Linked DNA regions of Homo sapiens: regions 2, 3, 4 and 5 are each linked to region 1. Evidence: fine-mapped expression QTL. A gene starts in region 1. Each other region holds a variant in brackets. All regions are shown on one strand. Distances are between the middles of the regions. Region 1 holds the start of LONP2 (lon peptidase 2, peroxisomal). Region 2 overlaps LONP2 (lon peptidase 2, peroxisomal). Region 3 overlaps ABCC11 (ATP binding cassette subfamily C member 11). Region 4 overlaps ABCC11 (ATP binding cassette subfamily C member 11). Region 5 overlaps SIAH1 (siah E3 ubiquitin protein ligase 1).

The links.
Region 2: its variant is fine-mapped to the expression of LONP2 in whole blood (INTERVAL, PIP 0.90).
Region 3: its variant is fine-mapped to the expression of LONP2 in nasal epithelium (TOPMed, PIP above 0.99).
Region 4: its variant is fine-mapped to the expression of LONP2 in monocytes after LPS (Fairfax 2014, PIP 0.91).
Region 5: its variant is fine-mapped to the expression of LONP2 in whole blood (INTERVAL, PIP above 0.99).

What each region holds. Positions count from the first base shown.
Region 1 is chr16:48,241,440-48,246,439 of GRCh38, forward strand. It overlaps LONP2 (lon peptidase 2, peroxisomal), which reads left to right and starts at 2,861. Exons shown (of 15, transcript NM_031490.5): 1 at 2,861-3,182. The coding sequence starts at 2,950. The region is part of intron 1 of ABCC11 (ATP binding cassette subfamily C member 11); the gene reads right to left. RefSeq lists an enhancer at 2,797-2,886.
Region 2 is chr16:48,339,669-48,344,668 of GRCh38, forward strand. All of the region lies in intron 12 of LONP2 (lon peptidase 2, peroxisomal), which reads left to right. Among named protein-coding and RNA genes, the nearest start is that of SIAH1, 43 kb to the right of the region's middle. The variant A/G (reference allele first, on the strand shown) is at 2,198.
Region 3 is chr16:48,183,819-48,188,818 of GRCh38, forward strand. ABCC11 (ATP binding cassette subfamily C member 11) reads right to left here. Exons shown (of 30, transcript NM_001370497.1): 21 at 3,383-3,609; 22 at 3,135-3,272; 23 at 622-808. Among named protein-coding and RNA genes, the nearest start is that of ABCC12, 30 kb to the left of the region's middle. RefSeq lists a silencer at 4,620-4,914. The variant C/A (reference allele first, on the strand shown) is at 2,773.
Region 4 is chr16:48,190,282-48,195,281 of GRCh38, forward strand. It overlaps ABCC11 (ATP binding cassette subfamily C member 11), which reads right to left. Exons shown (of 30, transcript NM_001370497.1): 19 at 3,598-3,701; 20 at 2,239-2,436. Among named protein-coding and RNA genes, the nearest start is that of ABCC12, 37 kb to the left of the region's middle. The variant C/T (reference allele first, on the strand shown) is at 2,287.
Region 5 is chr16:48,358,144-48,363,143 of GRCh38, forward strand. It overlaps SIAH1 (siah E3 ubiquitin protein ligase 1), which reads right to left. Exons shown (of 2, transcript NM_003031.4): 2 at 2,388-4,287. The coding sequence starts at 4,285. The coding sequence ends at 3,437. It also overlaps a transcript of LONP2 not described here. Among named protein-coding and RNA genes, the nearest start is that of SIAH1, 25 kb to the right of the region's middle. The variant C/T (reference allele first, on the strand shown) is at 2,572.

The DNA.
Region 1 (5,000 bases):
AATCAATATCGTGAAAATGGCTGTACTGCCCAAGGTAATTTATAGATTCAATGCCATCCCCATCAAGCTACCAATGACTTTCTTCACAGAATTGGAAAAAACTACTTTAAAGCTCATATAGAACCAAAAAAGAGCCGGCATTGCCAAGACAATCGTAAGCCAAAAGAACAAAGCTGGAGGCAACATGCTACCTGACTTCAAACTATACTACAAGGCTATGGTAACCAAAACAGCATGGTACTGGTACCAAAACAGAGATATAGACCAATGGAACAGAACAGAGCCCTCAGAAATAATACCACACATCTACAACCATCTGATCTCTGACAAACCTGACAAAAACAAGAAATGGGGAAAGGATTCCCTATTTAATAAATGGTGCTGGGAAAACTGGCTAGCCATATGTAGAAAGCTGAAACTGGATCCCTTCCTTATACCTTATACAAAAATTAATTCAAGATGGATTAAAGACTTAAATGTTAGACCTAAAACCATAAAATTCCTAGAAGAAAACCTAGGCAATATCATTCAGGACATAAGCATGGGCAAGGACTTCATGACTAAAACACCAAAAGCAATGGCAACAAAAGCCAAAATTGACAAATGGGATCTAATTAAACTAAAGAGCTTCTGCACAGCAAAATAAACCACCATCAGAGTGAACAGGCAACCTACAGAATGGAAGAAAATTTTTACAATCTACCCATCTGACAAAGGGCTAATATCCAGAATCTACAAAGAACTTAAACAAGTTTACAAGAAAAAATCAAACAACCCCATCTAAAAGTGGGCAAAGGATATGAACAGACACTTCTCAAAAGAAGACATTTATGCAGCCAACAGACACATGAAAAAATGCTCATCATCAGTGGCCATCAGAGAAATGCAAATCAAAACCACAATGAGATACCATCTCACACCAGTTAGAATGGCAATCATTAAAAAGTCAGGAAACAACAGGTGCTGGAGAGGATGTGGAGAAATAGGAACACTTTTACACTGTTGGTGGGACTGTAAACTAGTTCAACCATTGTGGAAGACAGTGTGGCAATTCCTCAAGGATCTGGAACTAGAAATACCATTTGACCCAGCCATCCCATTGCTGGGTATATACCCAAAGGATTATAAATCATGCTGCTATAAAGACACACACACACGTATGCTTACTGCGGCACTATTCGCAATAGCAAAGACTTGGAACCAACCCAAATGTCCATCAATGATAGACTGGATTAAGAAAATGTGGCACATATACACCATGGAATACTATGCAGCCATAAAAAAGGATGAGTTCATGTCCTTTGTAGGGACATGGATGATGCTGGAAACCATCATTCTGAGCAAACTATCGCAAAGACCGAAAACAAAACACTGCAAGTTCTCACTCATAGGTGGCAACTGAACAATGAGAACACTTGGACACAGGGTGGGGAACATCACACTCAGGGGCCTGTCGTTGGGTGGTGGGGAGTGGGGGGGAAGGGATACCATTAGGAGATATACCTAATGTAAATGACGAGTTAGTGAGTGCAGCAAACCAACATGGCACATGTATACATATGTAACAAACCTGTACGTTGTGCACATGTACCCTAGAACTTAAACTATAATAAAAAATAAAATTAAATTAAAAACAGAAAAAAAATAAAAGTATCAAGGTTGTAAAAAAAAAAAAAATTGGACGGGCGCAGTGGCTCAGGCCTGTAATCCCAGCACTTTTGGGAGGCCAAGGCGGGCAGATCACGAGGTCAGGAGATTGAGACCATCCTGGCTAACATGGCGAAACCCCGTCTCTACTAAAAATACAAAAAATTAGCCGGGCGTGGTTGCGGGTGCCTGTAGTCCCCAGCTACTCGGGAGGCTGAAGCAGGAGAATGGCATGAACCCGGGAGGCGGAGCTTGCAGTGAGCCGAGATCTCGCCACTACACTCCAGCCTGGGTGACAGAGCGAGACTCCGTCTCAAAAAAAAAAAAAAAAAAAAAAAATTGAGGACTTGCCACAGATTAGAGAACACCTAGGAGATTTCATAACAAAACACCTAGGAGATTTCACAACAGGATCCTGGATATTGGATCCTGGACCAGATCCAATGAAGGACATTAGTGGGAAAACTGGCAAAATTTGGGTAAGGCCTATAGGTTAAACGATAATAATGTTAATTTCCTGGTTTTGATCATTGAACTATGATTATGTAAGATGATAACAGACGAAACTGGGTGAAAGGTATATAGGAACTCTGCTGTAGTTTTGTACATCTAAAATCAATTCGGGCCGGGCACGTTGGCTCACGCCTGTAATCCCAGCACTTTGGGAGGCCGAGGTGGACGGATCGCTTGAGGTCAGGAGTTAAAGACCAGCCTGGCCAACATGGTGAAATCCCCTCCCTACTAAAAATACAACAATTAGCTGGGTGTGGTGGCGGGCATCTGTAATCCCAGCTACTCGGGAGGCTGAGGCAGGAGAATCGCTTGAACCCGGGAGGCAGAGGCTGCAAGCCGTGGGTATCGCGCCATTGCACTCCAGCCTCCGCGACAGAGCGAGAATCTGTCTCAGAATAAATAAATAAATAAATAAATAAATAATTAGTTCGAATCAAAAGTTAAAAACACTTCAAGTATATGTAAAAAATCGAAGAAAACGTTAAAAACACTTCAAGTATATACAATTCAAATAAGATCATCCTTCCAAATATACTCTGTAAGTGAGGCGAAGGTCGCTGCACGCTTGAGTGCACGTCTTTCCGCATAGGTAGGACGCTCAAGTCTTACCGGGAGGCTCTCCTAGAGAGCAGCGCGAAGCCATGGCTTTTGGGCCCGGGGACGGACCGTAGCGCGTAGCCGGAAGCGGAGGCGTGGAGGCGGGTCTGAGGTTTGGTGACTGCGGGGCAGGCCGGGGGCAGCTGTCTGTCTGGCTCTTTTTGACAGCCCCCAGTGCGAAAGGCTGCCAGCATGTCATCAGTGAGCCCCATCCAGATCCCCAGTCGCCTCCCGCTGCTGCTCACCCACGAGGGCGTCCTGCTGCCCGGCTCCACCATGCGCACCAGCGTGGACTCGGCCCGCAACCTGCAGCTGGTGCGGAGCCGCCTTCTGAAGGGCACGTCGCTGCAAAGCACCATCCTGGGCGTCATCCCCAACACGCCTGACCCCGCCAGCGACGCGCAGGACCTGCCGCCGCTGCACAGGTAGGCCTGGCTGCCCCCGCGGCGGCGGCGGGCGGCGCGGCCTCCTCCGGGGACCTGGGCCCAGGCCACGGCCTGCCTTGAGCGCGAGGCTCAGTTCGGGGCGGCCTTCGCGGCTCGGTTCCGCCTCTCTGGTGCTATCACTTGCAAAATGGGGATGTCAGATACCTGCCCCATGACCATGAATGAGATCGTTCATGAAGTAGTGCCTGACACCTGGTGAAACTACGCAGTTCCCTACCGTTCTGGATAATTTAATTTGAATCCTCTTCCCCCTCTCCGCAATTCCTCGCCCTCGGTCTTCAGCCTCCTAGGCCAGTGCTTTTAACTTTCCAGGCCCTTTCTTTCTCCCCGGTGATCTCTGCCTTCACTTGCCTTCGCTTTTCACCTTTCTCCCCACTGCCCTTTACTCCTATCCGCCTCCCCTTTTCTGTCACCCATCATTTTTGTCCGCTGAGGCATTCTCTGCTCCGTGAGTTTTAACTTTTCCTGTTTCATTCCTAAACTGCACTATTTGTGGGTGCCTTTCTTCTATACTCCCTGCCACCCTTCTCCTTCTCCCCCTAATCCTTCTGTTTCCCTTTGTAAAGGGCCTTTACTGCTCACATTTTCGCTGGTCCCCCTTTCTGGAACTTTCCTAGCTTCTCACCTCTGCTCCTTCACTCATAACATTTCTTAGGCCCCAGGCTTACTACTATATTGCCCAGTACCCTCGCCCTATTGGTGTGACTTTGGGTGAGAGCTTTAACCTCTATTTCTTTTATTCTGCAATTTGGAAACTGACAGCATCCATCTCTTAGGCAAGTTATGAAGAATAAATTGAATAATGTGTATATTCCACTTTGCACCATGCATGATGGATGACTTTGCTGTCCAGTACTGTGTAGTGCATGTGGCTCGTCAAATTGAGATGATAGAATTGCCAGTTGTCCTGGTTTGCTGCGATTGTCTGTTTTAGCATTGAAAGTCCTATGTTTTAGCCCCTCCGTCCCAGGGAAACCAGGAGGTTGGTCACCCTAAATGTGCTGTAAGTGTACAATACACGCCAGATTTTGAAAAAACTTTTTGATTAATACATTTTATATGGATTAAATGTTGGAAAGGTAATATTTTGAGTACTTGGGGTTAATAAAATGTTAAGATTTCTGCTGTTTTTACTTTATAATGTGGCCACTAAAATTTTATATGTGGTCCACATTATATTTTTATTGGACAATGCTGGTATATCGTATGCTCTCAACAAGTATCTTCAAACTCACCTGCCAAGCACCCGCCTCCTATTCCTAACTCTACTGGAGGTGTTGTGTTTTCAGTTTAGAGCTTCTCCTTTCCTGGCAGTTATCCCTTATTTTTAAATTAGGGGTTCCTGACTCTGAATGGATTTCCGGAGGGTTGGACATGTCTTATTTTTCCTCAAAATCTTGTGACTATGTACATTTTTTTAGGAGAATCCTTTGCTTTCTTCAGATTCTCAAAGGAGACTGGTACCTCCCCCCACCCCCGTTAAAAGAAAGCAAAACAAAGCAACAAAGACCAACAAACCTTCCACAGCAGCCCAGTATTCATTTATATTGTAAAAGCCTTGATTTTCTCAAGCATGGAAAATATTTTGGCTCCCATCTGACCTGCTTTGGTTATTGCCTGAGTGGAATTGGTCACATTCCAAGTTTCAGTACTCTTTGATAAATTGTATTGGATTCTAGTTTCCCAACATACGACTCTGCTCCTTCTGCTTACTTTTCCCAAATTATTTTGCCTTCTGTGCCCAGGCACACTTAGTTCCCTGTCTAGGCAAGAGTGGTCATTATTAGACTTCATTTT
Region 2 (5,000 bases), 98 kb after region 1:
GGTGGGACCCAAAGCACCAGTGAGGAAATGGCTTTTGTTGGGAGAAGGGATACCTTTTGCAGGATATTATGTAGAAAGGGACAAGAATATTGAGTTATTTATAAGGAAAAGATTATAATGATGGGGCTAACGTGTGTGAGCTGCACAAGAGAGGAGTGAAGTTAGGGCAGAGCTGCTGTATGATGGGAATGTGCTGGAGTTCATGGCTTGAGTACAGGCGAGCTAGAAGGATAAGAAATGATGGTCAGGGGTTTCAGAGGTAGCATGGTTTCTGTTGGTGATAAGTACCTGGAAGAGGGTGGCTGAGTTCAGGAGGCATTTAAAGAACTGAGAAGCCAGGTTCTGGGAGAGCATCATGCCTTCACTGAAGACACCCAGGGTGATAGCAGGGGCTGGGGCAGAAAGGAAGGAGCAGAGTTTAGAATCTTCCTGAATGTCAGAGACAGTGAAGAGAGAGTCAGGATGGTAAAGCCAGCTGCCATAAGCAGGGGCTCAGAAGGGTAGAAGAATAAGGCCTGAAAGTTGCAAGGCAGCCTCTTACTGACTAAATTTTAAACTTAGTCTCTTTGAGCTTGATGTCTTCCTCTGATAAATGGTGGTAAGCATGTGCACGTTATCACAGAGTTCAAATTTGGTGAGTCAGTGTACCCACTGCATTGCCCAGTAATACTAAAAAAGAAAAAACAAATACTAATTTCTGCAACTACCATACTCCCTAAAAACAGAGACCTACCCCCAATCACCAAAAAATCCCCATTGTTTTTCTAATCCAAATTTTGTACATATTTAATAACCTTATACCACCACTTACTATTTTTTTACTTTCATCGAAGATGAATCTACAAAAATATATTAATGTCAAAAAATATTACTGACCTAGCAAACTGGCAGTTGGGAAGTAAGGTAAGAAGGCACACTTTTATTAATTAATAATATCTTTTGTATTCCCTAAACAGATTGAAAAATGATGGATTAGTTCATTCTTGCATTCCTATAAAGAAATACCTGAAACCAGGCACAGTGGCTCACGCCTGTAAATCCCAGCGCTTTGGGAGGCCAAGGTGGGCGGATCGCTTGAGTTCGAGACCAACCTGGGCAGCAAAGTGAGACCTGGTCTCTACAAAAAATACAAAATATTACCCGGAAGGCTGAGGTGGGATCCACCTGAGCCCAGAAGGTTGAGGCTGCAGTGAGCTGTGATCACACCATTGCACTCTAGCCTAAGTGACAGAGTGAAAACTCTGTCTCAAAAAAAACAAAGAACCACCTGAGACTGGGTAATTTATAAAGAAAAGAGGTTTAATTGGCTCACGGTTCTGAAGGTTCTAAAGGAAGCATAGCTCCAGCATTAGGCCAGGTGCATTGGCTCACACCTGTAATCCCAGCACTTTGGGAGGCCAAGGGCAGGCGGATCATGAGGTCAGGATTTCGAGACCAGCCTGGCCAATATGGTGAAACCCTGTCTCTACTAAAAATACAAAATTAGCTGGGCGTGGTGGCGCACACCTGTAGTCTCAGCTACTCGAGAGGCCGAGGCAGAAGAATCACTTGAACCCAGGAGGCGGAGGTTGCAATGAGCTGAGATCGTGCCACTGCACTCCAGCTTGGGACACAGAGTGAGACTCCATCTCAAAAATAAATAAATAAATAAATAAATAAATAGGTCCAGCATCAGCTTCTGGGGAGGCCTCAGGAAACTTACAGCCTTGGCAGAAAGTGAAGGGGGAGCCGGCATGTCATGTGGCCAGAGCAGGAGCAAGAGTGCAGGAGGGGAGGTGGCCACATGCTTTTAAACAACCACCTCCCACAAGAACTCACTCACTATTGCGAGGACGACAGTACCAAGGGGATGGGGCTAAACCATTCATGAGAAATTTCCCTCCGTGATCCAGTCACCTCCCACCAGGCCCCACCTCCAGCACTGAGGATTATAGTTCAACATGAGATTTGGTGGAGACACAGATCCAAACCATATCAAATGGGTTCTAGGAACTTAGCCTAGATTTCAGATTTAGGAACAGTATCATAGGTCACCTTTTCAAAATACATAAAGTTTCCTACAGAAACAATATCAATTAAGTGCATGTTTTAAAAATAAAAATAAAGGTTACTACAAAAAAAGTGGGGAGGAGCAGGAGTGGGTGCAGGTGTCCCCAGGAAGCCTAGGCATAGCTCACACTGCATGTGCTATCACGGC[A/G]AGACTCAGAACTGCCCCGAATCCGAGGAGGGGCCATGCGAGTAGGTGGGCCTAGGCACCTCCTCAGTCACTGGCTGTGCCCTTTCACTCTGTCACTGGGAGACAGAATCCTGAGTTTTCTGCTTCAGGGAGCCTGCATGGAAAGAGTAGGTCACTGCCGGAAATCAGGCTAGTTTTAGCAAAAGGAACGGACATTAGGCACCTCCAAAGGGACAAAGGACCAATATACCTGGTTGGGGACAGGATTCTGTCATTTGATTATTCCTGACTCATGTTTTCATGAGGTAGTCCCCCACCTCATATAAAAGCCTCAGTGTTGGCTTCTGACCATGGTGTATGAAAAGCCCTTGTCTAAAGGTTACTGCCCTGAGAAAATAATAAAGGAAGAAGAGGATAGACATGAAGACACTTTAAAGCCTCCTGAATAGAATGCATCCAGAAGCGAATTCCAGGAGATTCTGTCATCATGCTTGCCTTTCAAGCAAACAAAATTAGCTGCTAGAACTGAGAAAGAGTGTAAACACCAACTAAATGCCTCAAAGAATCATGGTAGTAAATTACTTCTCCATGTTGCTCCATATAAACCTGCTGTGCCACCTGTTGAAGGCAGCACTGATGCTGCATGTTCAGTCTGGTCCAAGGCCCCAACAGGAATCCGTTGTGCCAAGAAAAGGCCCTACTGGAAGGATTGGAGAGCAGCTGGTTCTCAGCAATGCAAGCATCAGGCCAGGCTGGGGCTGCTTAATGCTGCTTAAGAGATGACAGTGGTGGACCCCAACACCTCTCCAAGGGATGTAGAATCTGCTTTTCCCATTTCTGAATGCTACTGAAACAAATCTACAACTAGAAAAATCAAATATTCATGAATTCAAGACTTGGGATCTCAGTACTAAGACTTTAAAGAAGTTGCCAGATGGATCGCTTCTGTGGTGACAGCCCTGGCAGGAGCATTCAAGTGCTCTATGAGCTACAAAAGAAACCAGTTGATGGTGTGAACACCACTACAGAGCAACCTGCACACCACAGCAATTTGACAGCTCAGGTTCTGTGTCTCATGTGGCACCGTGCTTGTCCTTGGAAAGAAGGCCTACAAAATTCTTCATATCTCCATTCCTTGACATCTGCTGGCAAACTCCCACTCATATTTTAAGACTCAGCCTCTCCTGTGACACCTGTGTCTTCTCTCCAAACAGGGAGGGACGCTTGCCTCTTCAGAGCTCCCCACACTGGAGTATAACTGCTCCTGTGTCTGATGCCCTTAGTCTCAGTGCCAGGAGGTATTCATGCTTATGTCCCCATGGCCTGTAACAGAGCCTGCATCAGGATGCTTGGTAAAGGACTGTTGAATGAATGTCAAATATGGGTCCCTCTGATGGGTCTATACGTGTTGATCTAGGATTGGAAGGGTCACAAAGAGTTGTGCATGCTTACAATTTCAATCAAATATCACTATTTTTAGTTAAGAGGGAAGAGTAGTGTGAAATTGGCAATAATTAGATACTCCAAATGTTCTTTAAAAACTAATAGCATTGATGTATTAAGAATGCAATCAGCCGGGCACAGCAGCTCACACCTGTAATCCCAGCACTTTGGGAGGCTGAGGCAGGTGGATCATGAGGTCAGGAGTTCGAGACCAGCCTGGCCAAGATTGTGAAACCCCCGTCTCTACTAAAAATACAAAAATTAGCCGGGCATGGTGACGCACACCTGTAGTCCCAGCTACTTGGGAGGCTGAGGCAGGAGAATTGCTTGAACCCAGGAGGTGGAGGTTGCAGTGAGCCCAGATCGTGCCATTGCACTCCAGCCTGGGTGACGAGCGAAACTCAGTCTAAAAAAAAAAAGAATGCAATCATACATTAGAAGACACATTCTGTTTTAGATTTTTACTTAAATATTTTAAATACTTCCTTAATCTGCATATTTACCTTATTGATAGATTTCAGAAGAAATTGATCATTTCATGGAACAAGATTTATTAGACACATAAGGAAAGTGAATCATAACAACTGTACAGGTGGGAAATTGAACAACAAAAATGACCCTGAGATACCCACATTCTACTTTGGCATATAGTGGGAAAAACATTCTAGACTTCAAGTCTAGGCCTATCTTGGCTAATGTAACCGATGACTTCACAAACCATTTATGGGACTAGAAGCTGAAAGGAAAGTACTGGTGGATAAACATCATATTGAAATTATGTTGAGTCACTTATTTGCTATAAAACACAAATTGTTTTGTGTAAAGGGGTTAAGATGGCTGGAAAACTGTCTCCACTCAAGAGCAAGAAAGCAGCATGTGTCTTACCCTGTACCTTCATTTTTACTTGTACTTCATAATTTCTGAGGGAGAAATACGTGGAAACCAGATGCTTGATATAGTTTCAGAACACGTCCTTAAAGAATATGACTCCAAGTCTAAGAATTGTAGGTCCTTTGCTTCTTAGATAACTACTGTTAGCCTTGATCACAGAGATTCCAGGTTTAATAACTTCAGTTCTCCCCACTGTGTATATAGATGTTAAGTTACACAGATTTGGCATTATTCCCATTTTCAGGTTAATATCAGAACACTTGTTATCAAGTCAGGATAGTAATTGTGAGCCTAGATGCTCTAGGTTTGGCCATACGTGGTTATCTACACCACCAACTGTTCCAATTAACAATTTACCAGTTGCTTCTACCCAAAGTACCAAGACTCCAGCAAATGGGGAATATTGGAAACTGGCTTGGCTTCTTGAAGCAACATGGTAATCAATAAGAATCTTGGCTGGGCATGGTGGCTCATGCCTGCAGTCCCAGCA
Region 3 (5,000 bases), 58 kb before region 1:
CTCTATGGCTGTGGCCCTTGACTATGGTCCTCCTGGCAGCCCCACCCATGCCCAGAGTGAGTCAAACCCCCCGGCTAAGGTCCAGAAGTCTGTTTCAAGTCTTAGGCACATTTAAGTTTGAGAAGCCCTGTTCTAGGGGCTGGGCTGTGAAACCCACCTTTTAAACAACCTTTCCAGGTGATTCAGAAAGGTTTGACAGCTCAATCAGGATAGGAACGGTTAGGTACAAAGACAGCAGCCAGGAAGCCAAGAGATCAGTGTTCTCGTTCCAGCTCTGCTAACATGCATCTGTTTGGACAACTCCTTCCCTTGTCTGGGCCTCAGTTTCCCCATCTGCATAATATGCACACTGGACTCTGTCATCTGTGGGCTCCCCTTCACTCCCAGTGTCCTGTGATCCTATTAAATACCTTTGAATACAGACTTCCCAATTCAGAGCTGACCACAAGGAAACAGAGCAAAGTACCAATTTCAGAAGGCCAAGCACATAGCTCCTAAGATCACACGTGGCCAGAGCCTAAGGTGTCATTGAACACCTGAGGACCCCCTGAGTCTGCCCAGAAGCCACAGGCAGAGGATGAGCAAAGCTCAGAGAGGGCCCACACAGAGTCACCCCCTCACCTGCAGCACGATGTTGACAGCCATGACTTTAAAGGAGTAGGGGGTGGAGGAAATGCCAAAAGCCACGAACAGGGCAACAGCCAAGGTCACAAGGTTGGTCATGATCTCCAGCCTCAATGCCATCCATCGTGTGGAAGATAGAAACAACAGCAGGTAGTTATTCTGCGCATCAGTCAGCCTCTTAAACCTGAGAAGGAAAGCACAGACTAAGAACCATGTGTTTGTCTGACCTAGGGTCTCCCCGGGTCAGGGTAGATACCGGCTGCTTCCTCCAGCATCCAGTTCCCCACTCCCAGCAGCAGGGCCTGATTTTTCTTTGGGGAGTTCCTCCCTACCCCTTTCTCAGCCATGAATTTGGGTGAAGTTGACCTGACTCCTAACCCAGATTGAGGAGTAGGCTCTGCTGCTAAGGCCCATCCTTAGCACGCGCTCCTCGCCTAACCTCTGTGACTCACTCAGGGATGGGTGAGTTACCCCAAATTGGCCACAGAGAGTGAATAAATGCCAGGACGTGTGAGTGAGTGTGGGAGTGATTCCTTTCAGTGGGATGATGGGATATCTGAAACTACCATTCTGCTACTAGGAGGGGAGCCTGGAGCCACCAGAGGGTCTCTGGGAGCTTAAAGGTAAAATAACACCATGGAAGGCAGAGCAGTAAAACCGAGACACCCGGGGAACATTAGCTGAGTCTCTGGATTAAGCCTCACTTTAAGCAAGTCCTCCTCCCCAGCCTTTTGCTATGAAAATTTTTATAAGTACCAAGAGATTAAAAGCTTGATTTAATGAACATCTGTATACCCTCTAATGAAAATTTTTTAAAGTACCAAGAAATTAAAAAGTTTATTCCGTGAACATCTGTATACCCTCTACCTAATTTAGCAATTGTTAGTATTTTGCCATATTTAAGTCATATTTTTAAGCTAGTTTGCATTAGTTTTTTCTGTCACTTCCAACCAAGAAACCTACCAATTTCCAATTTTCACATACCACCATCACAGTTTTCCATGTCAATCACAACCTGTACTGTTATTTGATTAGTATTATTATTTTACTTGCTTTGTTTGAGAATGTATATTAAAAGAAACTTTAATCACAACCTTAAATTATATAAATAATGGGTTTGATATGTTAGTTGCATTTTTTCTAAAGTACATTCAAATAAACCTTTGATTATTGAAATTAAATATTCATTTACTCATCAACTAAAACCATCTTACCATCTGAGTGGGCTATCACCCCAGCAGAGTGGCCCTTCTGACTCACTCTGTCCATACCCTCTGAACCTTTGCATAAGACATTCCAAATTCTGTCCACCTTACCTTTCTATACTGATTGAGTCACCTCCACCTTGAGGCCTTCCCAGATTAAACACAACAGACCCTGGTCACTCTGTGGCCCCTGTGCTCAAGCCACCTTGCTATCCTTCAAACCTACTTCCCCCATCTCATGGTCTTTGCATTTACTGTCCCCTCTGCCTGGAGAGCTCCTACCCACATATTTCCATAGCTCAACCCACACTTCATCTCAGGGTCCTTTTCTCTGACACCTTCCCCAACAACAGCTCCAATCCCTCCAGACTCTCTTCATCTGCTTATCTTAGTATATACCTTGGGGCAGGGTTCTCAGTGTGGGCTGAATGAATGCACCGCTCCAGGATCCCCTCAGTCCTAGAGTCTGCACAGACCTTGAGTGGTCTATAATGCCACTGAGAGAGCAGGTGCCACAATTAATCCAATATTCCAGCTAACTGAGCACATACCGTCTCCCAAATGTGTGCCCAAGTCTTACCCAGGCTTCAAGGCCAGCTCAGATGCCACCTCCTCCCGAAAGCCTTATCTGATTCCCCCAGGCCACCTCCTTCCCCTCTGAATTCCCAAGCAGTTTATCTGCCCCTCTCTTATGCTATCTACCTTCTTCAATCACGTATAATTACAAAAACATGTGCCTGTTTCTCCCTTTTTCCACCAGACTATGAACTTCTTGTAGGTGAAGACCGTGCTTGATTATTCTCTACAAACAGATAAGTTCGTGTTACACCATTAAACCTCAACAACAATCACAGGACTTGTTTGCTTGTTTGTTTCAACATTTAGGGGGCAAATCTATGGCATGAGTAGTGAAGGAAGTTCTATTATTTAGAAAGCTATTGTT[C/A]CTCATTATTTTGTTAAAGATAGATATTTGTTTGGAAGTGAAAGAAATAACATAATGCAAGATGTGTTTGCACAGTAATGCACCTTATCATTAAATGTATGTATACATATGTCCATATATATATACACAATATATACAAGGTCTTTAAAGTTTACAAACATTTTTCCTATCATTTACATTTTTCATTCTTATAAATGAAAGAATGGTTCAGCAGGTTCTGGAGGCTCAGAGAAATACGTCCATCGAACAATGTGCTCTCTGATGCTTTTGAAGATGATGCCACTCCCAGACGCTCCATTCTTTCCCTGCTCCCCACCACCCCTGTGGTTCCATCATTCTCAAATGGCAGCAGAAGGACTCACTGGCTGATGAAGTCTTCAGTTTTTCCATAGACATGGATGGAGCTCAGGCCTTGCAGAGAATTGAGGATGTGGGAGAATAAAGGAGACCGGCTATAGTTCTCCAGTCTCTTGAACACACCGATGGCCTTCTTGAACATCCTGCATGGACAGTGGAGGTAAGGGACCTGGACCGTCCACCTCTGGGACCATCTAGTCTGGGTTGGTCCCAGCCTTGCTCCCCAAGTCACAAGCAAAAAGAACCTACTCACATATAATAAATGAAGCAAATAACCATGATTATGGCTCCCATTAACAGGATATATGGAGACAGCACACTGACAATCAACAGGACGGCGATCACCATTAAGGACAGGACCAGGAACTGCTCTGAAAAGATGGGCAAGAGCTGGTCCAGCTGTTCCAAGTCCCCTGCGAAGCAGTTCAAAAGCCGGCCTATTGGGATGGTGTCAAAGAAACTCATGGGGCAGCGGAAAACCTGCAGGGACAAAATCAACGCAGACCATGAGAGAAGCTGCAGGCCCTGCTCAAGATTGGATGAAGATGCCTGTTACCCTTGACTCTAAAGAGCCACGGATCCCAGGGGTCTCCAGGGCAGGCAATGTAGAGCAATGATTTAAAAGCATGGATGGGCTCCACGGCTACCTGACTCCTCCACCTACTGCTGTCTGACCTCGGGCAAGTACTGAGTTCCTCTGAGTCTCAAGGTCCTCGTTAGCGAAATGGGAATGAAAACGATGCTTCACAGAGTTGTAGTGAGGATCACACAACTCCTCAAATATACTAAACACTGAAGTGTATAATTAAAAGGCTGAATGTATGGTATATGAATTATATCCTGTAAAGCTATTAGAGAGAGAGAGAATACATTAAAAATGCTCAGAGCAGTGCCTGCCCCTGAGGTAGGAGGTGAGACTTGACTCTGGAGGCAGGGTTTGAACGCCAGACCAAATTGAGGACTAGCTAAAACAGGGGTGGGGTGGAAGCCACTTTCCATAAGACAGGCCCACCAGTGTGTCGTGTCAGTTTACCATTCCCATGGCAACACCCAGGAGTTACCGCCTCTTTCTGGGTCATCAATGACTTGATGACTTGGAAGTTGCCACCCTTTTCCTAGAAACTTCTGTATAAACTGTCCCTTAATCTACATGTAATTAAAAGTAGGTATAAATATGACTGCAAACCTGCCCTGAGCTGCAGCTCTCAGCACACTGCCTACGGGGTAGCCCTGCTCTGCAGGGTCAGTCACAGAGCTGCAACACTGCCAGAACTGCAACAGTGACACTTCAGTAAAGCTGTTTTCTTCTACCCTACCACTGGCTTGCCCTTGAATTCTTTCCTGGGCAAAGCCAAGAACCCTCATGGACTAAGCCCCAGTCTGGGGTTTACCTGCCCTCCATCACCCCCAGTAGGGCATTCTACCAATACCAGCTCTTATTATTTTCTACAGATGGGACCATTTTCACTCAGGACTGCCAAAGATTAGGAGCAGCAATCCTACTGGGTTGCACACGATTTGGACCCTTGGATCAAATTTAGCCTTAACTGCCCCCTTCTTGAGGGTGGCACCTGCAAGTTGATCTCTAACAGCCAGTGGCCATGAGGCCTTTCGGAGATCAAAGGACATGTCAAACCACAAGGTAGGCTCTAACAAAAGCATTTAGTTTGGTGTCCTTGTTTTGCAGATGAGGAAACTGAAGATTGCAGAAGAGGAAGTGGCTCTGTAACTTACTCATTACGCAAGTGGTTAATGGCAAAACCATGATCCAATTAGGCCTTCTGAGGCTTCCCCAAGCCTGGCACAGTCACTCTTCACAGAAGGCAATTTCTTAAAGGTTCATGGCACTGACCAAATGACCACCTACATTT
Region 4 (5,000 bases), 51 kb before region 1:
AACCTGGCACATAGTAACACTTAGTAAGTGAGAGAGAGGAATGACATTTCCAAGAAGCAGTGTGATACCATAAGCAATTTGGTTTTTTTTTTTTTAAATGAGATAGGGTCTCACTGTCTCCCAGGCTGGAGTGCAGTGGCATGATCTCAGCTCACTGCCACCTCCACCTCCCTGGCTCAAGCGATCCTCCTTGATCCTCAGTCCCCCAAGTAGCTGGGACTACAGGCACAAGCCCCCATGTCCGGCTAATTTTTATATCTTTGGTAGAGACAAGATTTTGCCTTGTTGCCCAGGCTGGTCTCGAACTCCTGAGCTCAAGCAATCCACTCACCTCAGGCCTCCCAAAATGCTGGGATTCCAGGCGTGAGCTACTGCACCCAGCTGACAATTCAGTATTCTAACCAAACACATATTCCAACTTTAACATATGTGAGATTTCAGTTTCCTCATATGTAAAATGAGGATAATATCCACTTCAAAGAGAACTCAGGGCAATCATAAGCAACTCTGTATATGACCATGCTCAGCCAGTGGAGGCCAGCGTCACTGTGGCCCTCCATCAGGGGACACTGAGCTCTTAGAACCAGACTTCCAGCAGGAGAGCTCCACCGCACTTTCATCACTCCCTTCTCACCAAGCAGCCTGGTTCACCCAGCTGCAACTACATTTTAGAAAAGGCAAAGCTATGAAGAGAGTAAAAAAGATCAGTGGTTGCTGGGAGTTTGAGGGTAGGGAGGGAGGGATGAATAGGTGGGACACAGGGTTTTGTTTATGGCGGCGGAACTATTCTGTACCATGGATACATGTCATTATACATTTTTCAAAACCCATAGAATGCACAGCACAAAGAATGCACCATAAGGTGAACTATGGATATTCATTAATAATAGTAATTAATAATGTACCAATATTGACTCATCAATTGTAACAAATGTCCCACGTTAATGCAAGATGTTAAGAATAAGAGAAATGGGCCAGGTGCAGTGACTCACAACTGTAATCCCAGCACTTTAGGAGGCTGAGATGGGCAGATGGCTTGAGCCCAGGAGTTCAAGACCAGCCTGCGCAACATGGCAAGACCTGTCTCCACAAAAATACAAAAATTAGCCAGGCATGGTGGTGTGCCCCTGTGGTCCCAGCTACTCGGAGGTTAAGGTAGGGAGGACTGCTTCAGCCCAGGAGGTCGAGACTGCAGTAAGCTGTGATCACACCACTGCACTCCAGCCTGAGTGATAGGCAGGTATATGAGAACTCTCTGTACTTTCATCTCAATTTTTCTGTAAACGAAAAGTGCTCAAAAAATAAAGTTGGCTTGGTTTCAAGTCTTTGCTATTGTGAATAGTGCCACAATAAACATACGTGTGCATACATGTGCATTTATCTTTACAGCAGCATGATTTATAATCCTGAAGCTGGAAACCATCATTCTCAGAAAATTATTGCAAGGACAAAAAACCAAACACCACATGTTCTCACTCATAGGTGGGAAATGAACAATGAGAACACAAGGACACAGGAAGGGGAACATCACACACTGGGGCCTGTTGTGGGGTTGGGGGACGGGGGAGGGATAGCATTAGGAGATATACCTAATGTTAAATGACGAGTTACTGGGTGCAGCACACCAACATGGCACATGTATACATATGTAACTAACCTGCATGTGCACATGTACCCTAAAACTTAAAATATAATAAAAAATAATAATAAAATAAAGTTGGCCGGGCATGGTGGCTCACACCTGTAATTCTAGCTACTTAGGAGGCCAATGTGGGAGGATTGCATTAGCCCAGGATTTTGAGACTAGCCTGGGCAAACAGAGCAAGACCCCATCTCTACAGATAAATAAATAATTAAGGTCTACTAATAAAAAAAAAATAGGCCGGGGGTGGTGGCTCATGCCTGTAATCCCAGCACTTTGGGGGGCCGAGGTGGATGGATCACTGGAACCCAGGAGTTTGAGACCACCTTGGGCAACGTGGTGAAACCCAGTCTCTACAAAAAATACAAAAATTAGTCAGATCTAGTGGCATGTGCCTGTACTCCCAGCTACTTGGGAGGCTGAGGCAGGAGGATCACTTCAGCCTGGAAGGTGGAGGTTGCCATGAGTGGAGATTGTGCCACTGCACTCCAGCCTGGGCTACAGAGCTCTAAAAAATAAAAAAATAAAAAAATAAAAATGAAGCTGGGCAAGTTCAGAGCTCAGCCTTCGGCCCCACCCAGCACCCAGGCCCATACCTTGTTGAAGAGCTTGTTGTGCAGGGCCGTGGATGCCTTCCTCGTGAC[C/T]TTGGTGAAAATCCCTGAGGAGCAGACCCCCACACAGATGAGGAGCAGGGCGTTGAGCCCGTACACCAGCTGGTAGAAGGACAGTTGAGGATTGTCTGCAATGTTGCCCAGGTCTGCCATGGTTCCATTGCTCTCTCGGCTGCTATTGGTCTTCAAGAAAGAACAGGGGGTCTGACTGCAGGTGTCCGGGGGAAATTCAGTGGCAGGGAAAGCCTTCTCCCTGGGGCCACGTGAGAATCTGTGGCTGGTAGAAGGTGAAGCTGTTTGCCCAAACCTCCCTGCTCAGCGCTTGGCTACTCTCTTTTGCCCTTCATTCCCACTGCCCTGCCCTGCATCAGGCCCTCAGAGTCTGCCCCGTGGACACTGCAGCAGCTGGGCCCTTGTGCACGCTCTGCTGTGATGCAGCGAGAAGCTTGGGAACGTGATTTCCCAGAACCCCTCCCAGCATGGTTTCAGGTCAGATTCTGCCAAGGAGAGGCACCCACAGGGAAACAGAAAGGTGGAAGAGGAGAAGCCAGCATGCTCAGTGGCAACTGTGGGCAGGAGCATGGGGTGTGGGGTTTTTCCAGAGGCTGGAAGGCATCCTGGGAATCACCCACTTCAGTTCAGCTGAGATCCCTGATGGCCAATTCCCCTCCAATGGTTGACTGAGCCTCTAATTCCCTATATTAAATCCTTGGAAGCTCTAAATACTTAGAGTGGCTTCTGCTCTCCTGACCCAAACCTCCTGGTACACGATCCAGAAATTAACCATATGGAGTACTGTGGGAAAAGCATGGCTTCGATTCTAAGCACCAAGTTCAAGTTCCGGCCCTGTCCTGTCCTAGGGCAGGTTCTTCATCCTCTCTAGGCACAGGGTCCCCTTGGAAAAATGGAGACAGTGGAACCTTCCTCTGAATGTGGGTGGGGAGATTAGTGAAATAACTTGACACAGTGTGGCCCGTGGTGGCTCCCAGCTCACAAGACCAGAAGTATATTTTAAATAAACCATAGTATGGAGGCCAGCCTGGAGCTAAAGGAGACAGTTACTGCAGTGGAATGCAAAGATTCTTGGGGCACTGTCTGGGGATATAAATCTCTTGGTTTTCCAGTAAGACTGCACAGGCGACCACCCATTCTACAAAGTCAGGAGGCCTGTGCCAGGGGAACCCCAGAGTCCTGGCTCCCCACGGTTCTCTCTGGAACACCAGCTCTGGGCTTGTCATGTGGGTCCCAAGCCATGCTCTGGCTCTTGTGGTCTCAAGGAGCAAGAAGTCACCCCACCTCACTCAAGCCCATAGAAACACAGCCCATCCACCTCATGGCACTCACCCCCGAGCCCTGCTCCAACCAGTAGCTCAGCCACCAGAAGCTGAAGATCGTTAAGAAGACGATCAGCACCACGAAGAAGAAAATTATGCAAGAGACCATGTAACCTGGGAGGGAGACAGTGGTGATGTACAAGTGCCACAAACAGGTGCGAGGCAACTGCTGACTCAGCTGCTCGGCCATCTCTGTCTTTGAGTGCTTGGAAACCCTTGAGCCCCACCCAATGTGGACACCTTGGAGGAATGGGAAGAGCTGGGTTCCAAAGTCAGAGAGCCCTGGGTTCAAATCCTGGCTCCACCACTTCCAAACCGTGTGACCTTGGATAAGGTACCAAATGTCAGCAACATACCACTTCTTTACCTATGAAATAGTGATAACCTTACCAGCTTCAGAGCCATGCTGAAGATGATATGATATAATGTGTGTGAAGCACTCAGCCCAGTGCCTGGCACAGGGCAGTGTTCTAGAGAAGTTAGTTCACCTTATGCAGGTCCTGCAGGTTCAGTTTTATAAATAATAATAACAGTTACCTTTTATGTGGTACGTACTATTATGTGCTACATGCCAGGAATAGTACCAAATGTATGCATTATTTCTGAATTAGTAATTCCTATCCCCATTTTCAATAGTGCTACTGTGTGAATGTATGTGTCTCTCCAAAATTCATATGTTGAAACCAAATTCCCAAGGTGATGGTATTAGAAAGTGAGGCCTCTAAGAGGTGACGACCATGAGGATGGAGCCCTCATGAGTGGCATTAATGCCCTTAAAAAAGAGGCTTCAGAGAGCTGCCTTCCTGGTTTTTTGTCCCTTTCACCATGTAAGGATACAACATTTATCCCCTCCAGGGATGGAGGACACAGCGTTCAAGGCGCCATCTTGGAAGTAGATACTGGGCCCTCACCAGACAAAAAACTTGCCAGCACCTTGATCTTGGACTTCCCAGTCTCCAGAACAGTGAGAAATAAATTTCTGTTCTTTATAAACTACCCAGTCTAATATATGTTGTTACAGCAGCACAAATAGGCTAATAAAATGAGGAAACTTAATCTGAGAGGGGAACTCCCTTGCCCAAACTTGCAGAGTTGGTGAGTGGCAGAGCTGGGATTTGAAGCAGTTAAGGGCAGGAAAAGGCAGGGTACACTCCTTGGGGCACTGCCTCCTGCTCTAGCACTCCTCTCATCTATTCATGCTCACATGTCCCGTGCCCACAGTCTTTTCCCAAATTCTATCCTTCCTTCAAGGGCTATCTCTTCTTTGATGAGATTTGAGATTCCCTGGCCACAGAGATCTCTCTTACCATCTGATGGAAGCAAGTCTTAATTCTCCAGCTAGATTCCAGGGTTGGTTCTTAGATGACTTTATACCCCTCCCCTCTAGAGCTTGGCACAGTGCCTGGAACATAG
Region 5 (5,000 bases), 120 kb after region 1:
CCAAATGCAAATAGTTAATACTAAAATGTCAAGCTTATTAACTGTTAAACACAAAATGTACTACCTTAATTTGCTTAAATTAGCAAAACATGAGGTGAAAATGAAAATGGAAAACTTCACACAGTTACTGGTGTCCTCTGGAACCTCTCCAGAAAGCAATGATGAAGTGTGTAAAAAATAATCCCAAGAATATAAACAGAAAACATACAGGTATGTTCATGGTTTACTTATATCCAGCAAGAACCTAGGTAAAATTACAGTGAATCCTCAAACTAACAAAAATTATTTTTCCAAGATTATTAAAGTGGTGAAACACTCAGATGACCATGTTGTGTGATGAAAGGCCTACAAGGTAATACATAAAAGGGCTCCCAATATCTTTGAAAATAAACATGTGGCTGGAGCCAGCTGCTCATGCCTGTAATCCCAGCACTTCAGGAGGCCAAGGCAGGAGGATCACTTGAGCCCAAGGGGTTTGAGACCAGCCTGGGCAACATAGCGAGACCCCATCTCCACAAAAAAATTTAATTAGCCAAGCATGATGCCATACACCTGTACTCTCAGCTACGCAGGAGGATGAGATGGGAGGATCACTTGAGCCCAGGAGTTTGAGGCTGCAGTGAACCGATTGCACCATTATACTCCAGCCTGGGTGACAGAGGATGAGCATATGTACATACACATAAAAAAAACTGGAAAAATAAAAATGTCACCTGAGTGGACAGTTAAGATTACACATCTCAATTGTATGTGCAGTTTTATAATTTCCAAAGTCTACATGAACTTTATAATCAAAACACTTAATAGTAAAACTACAAAATGATATACCTCCACGAATATACCCAATATGTTTTGTTTTTTGAGCCAAGAGTCTCAGTCCGTCACCCAGGCTGGAGTGCAGTGATACGATCTTGGCTCACTGCAACCTCCGCTTCCTGGGTTCAAGGGATTCTTCTGCCTCAGCTTCCCTAATAGGGTGTGCCATCATGCCTGGCTTTTTTGTACTTTTAGTAGAGACAGGGTTTCACCATGTTGGTCTCGAACTCCTGACCTTAAGTGATCCGCCCACCTTGGCCTCTCAAAGTGCTGGGATTACAGGTATGAGCCACAGCGTCCAGCCACGTTTATTTTGAAAGATATTGGGAGCCCTTTTACATATTATAATGTAACCCTTTCACCATACAACATTAAATATGGAATAAAAGTCACTTTTTCCAAGCACACATGCTAATGAACAGACTTGAATATAAATCTGTGGTTGAACTGTTGTTCTCTTTCACCATAAAAATGGCTACGCAAGGCCGGGCGCGGTGGCTCACGCCTATAATCCCAGCACTTGGGAGGCAGGCGGATCACAAGGTCAGGAGATTGAGAACATCTTGGCCAACATGGTGAAACCCCGTCTCTACTAAAAATATAAAAATTGGCCGGGCATGGTGGCACGTGCCTGTAGTCCCAGCTACTCTGGAGGCTGAGGAAGGAGAATCGCTTAAACCCAGGAGGCCGAGGTTGCAGTGAGCCGAGATCACGCCACTGCACTCCAGCCTGGGTGACAAGAGTAAAACTCCGTCTCAAAAAAAAAAAGCTCCACAAGCACATTATAACCAGTTCAAAAGATATTTATGTAAGGAAGAGACTACACAATCATCTTTTCTGAAAATGGATAACAGAAATAAACTCTTATCCAAAATTATCCAGAATCAGTGGTGGGATAAGGGTGAAGCCCAAATTTTCATTGACTTTCTAGGCTTACAGTACCCATAAAAACCACACAAAATTCTCTTTCACCATTCAGAAGGCAATTTCAGAATCTTGCCATGTGCCTCAAAGTAATTAGCAACAGTTAACTACATGGTACTGAAGGCATAATGGTAGCTAACATTCGCTGGATGCTGATATGAGCAAAGCACTGTTTCAGGTAACATACCTGTACCCCATTTAAAGGTTTTAAGTATCTACCATAATTTAACCCCACTTTACACATTAGGAAACTGGGGCCCAAGGTCACACAGCTGGTTAGTGGGGTAGAGCCGAGACTGGCACTTAGGTGCCTGGAAGTCTGGTTGCAGAACCAAGGCTCTTAGCCACTAGGCTATGAAATAGTGAATTTATTATATCATTGTGCTTTTTTAAAGAGGTGAAAAGTGGTCAGCATTTTAGTCATTCTCCTGACAGTTGTAAGAATCAAAATGTGGGCAAGAGGGGCAGGGCATGGGAAAGACTAATCCAGAGGCCATATACCCAGTTATTTGCTGTGATTAGAGTTAAGTCTACCGCACTTAAAAATGACAACACACAGCTTTCTGCTATATAATTAAAGTATGGAATGAAACAGGAAAATAACTTCGGATTTTATCAAACTTAGAGCTAAAGCAGACACAGTAAGATTTTTTTAATTTGCCAGATATTCTTTTAATGAGAATTATAAAAGACCAAAAACATTTTTTGCAAACTGCCTTTTTAAACAAATGATTTGCTTTTAATTACAAATACTGTGCATGACGATGCCTTCTTCTGCAAAACCAATAAATACAAGAACAAATTTTAAAATATGTGATTTGTCCAAGATAT[C/T]TGAAAAAGGAAACAAAAGCCTGATTTGCAGTATTTATAAAAATCAATTTATTCTCTAACCTTTCAAAGATTAAGCTCAAAGGTGTGACTCATCTGTAGAAGACAGAAAGAGAGCACCTTATAGATGCTTTAAATAGCTTTTGATTATTTTTCCGATGTCACCTTTACTTTCTGGAACTCATGGCTTCACAAAATAGCTGATTTTAAAATATTTCTAATGAACTGATTAATGGGGGAAAAGAAAATATTGAACACGTTATAAATTTTTTACCATAAACAAATATGCATATCAAAAGATACTAACTTTAAAATGGTACAAAAAAAGGAAAAACCTGAATTACAGAAAAGTCAAATTTATTTAATGAAAAACTAAAATTAATAAAAATTAGCAAATACACACAAAAAAAGCACACAGCAGCACTATGTATTGACTCACAAAGGGAAAAGCAGTGGCCCATGACCACTCAAGATGGCTTGTCAGTTAAAGGAAAAAAACCCAAACACGCACACACCCACGCAGGCACACACTCCCACGCAAAAACAAACTTTTTCAACAATACAATCAATCTACAACAAACACAAAACTCAGAATTATTTTACAATGCTTCCTTTCTTAATACAAAAGATGCCCATCTTGGGTGTATATACATATATTTTTTCAGTGGTTTACTGTTGACTTATTTTTAAATATATTAGTGTTACTACATGCAACTGTTTCCTGTATTTAACAGCCTTTCTTTTTATTTACCTTCATGTGTCTAGCTTCCACCTACCGAAAGAGTTTTAGGTTGGCAGACAGATGGGTGCCTTATTTTCTGTGAAACTGAAGTTTTAAACACTGGCCAGAAAATGTTTGATTGCCATTTCAACACATGGAAATAGTTACATTGATGCCTAAATTGCCATTTTCTGCAAAAAGCTGTGCAATGCTGGTGTCAAAGACTAGACAGTCGCTATTCATAATGGCTGTTGCAATTCCTTCATGAATAGATCGAGGAGTCGCTTCCCAAGTCAATCGTCGCCTATGACCATTTAGCTCAAGTCGGTAAGCAAAATTTTCAGCTTGCTTGCGTGTTCCTATCAGCTGTACGATTGCGAAGAACTGCTGGTGACCATCGTATTTTTCCTGTTTCTCTAAGACTAACATGAAGTGAAAGCCAAAACAGGACTGCATCATCACCCAGTCAACAGCACCAGGAAGATTAATGTCTGTAGCAAGAAAAACTATATCCTCTCCCTGTAGGGTTGTAATGGACTTATGCTGATGCATCAGATGGGGCATTACAGCATCCAGAGAGCCTTGCCATTTACAGGAAGCACCAGGGCACGGACAGGAATAAGGCCTAAACTCACAGAGCTCTTCATGGTCTGCTTTTTCTGTGTGTGGCAGAGTTATTTCACATCCAGAAGACGCATATTTACAGGGGAAAAGTACTGAATTAGCCACTTTCTCCATAGCCAAGTTGCGAATGGATCCCAAAGGGCCCCGGCAAGTTGGACAACATGTGAGCTTTGGGCGACAGTTGCTACAAACAAGATGGCCACTCTGACATTGAAGAATGGGCGGTAACACATAGTCAAAGCAGACTGGACACTCAAAAAGACTCGCCAAGTCATTGTTGGATGCAGTTGTGCCAGTCAGGGCAGGCACCCTCTGGGATGGTGGACACTTCGAGGTACCGGTAGGTAATGCTGTAGCAGTCTGACGGCTCATTTCTGAAATAAATACATAAGGAGGCAGGAGAAAAATAATTATAACCATGACTTACTTTATAAATAATGTTTACATGCCATAAGTCCTTTTAAAGTTTCATACAAAATTTACTGAGCAAAAGAGGAAGAAAAATAGGATTAAAAAAGATATTAAAAAAATAAAATTACACTGAATGTGCACTTTATTAGGATCTGTACACTGGATAAGCTCTCTTTTCAAAATGTTCCGGAAAACATGTGGAACTCCCTTAATCGTCTTTGGATAGACTACATAGAATAATAAATGCTAAAATAGAAAATGGACCATAAACAACTAAAGAAACTATACAAGGAACTGAAGTTTAATCGAATCCGTTTTGCTAGGACTCTCCCTGAGGCTCCCTTACTCTATTTCTTTCTAATTTGGAGTCAGCTGTTGATAGGTACAGGGAGTTACAGGTGAACTCCTGTATAAAATCGGCACTCTGTATCCACACGGTCTGCATCCGAGGACTTCACCAGCCATGGATTGAAAATATTCAGAAAAATTTATAAAGAATACAAAATTTTTAAAATACAGTCTATAACAACTATTTACATATTGTTTACATTGTATTAAGTAATCCAGAGATCACTTAAATTATACAAGAGAATATGCACATACAAATATGACACCATTTTCTATCAGGGACTTGAGCATCCTCAGGTTTTGGTATGGAGAAGGGGGTCCTAGAACT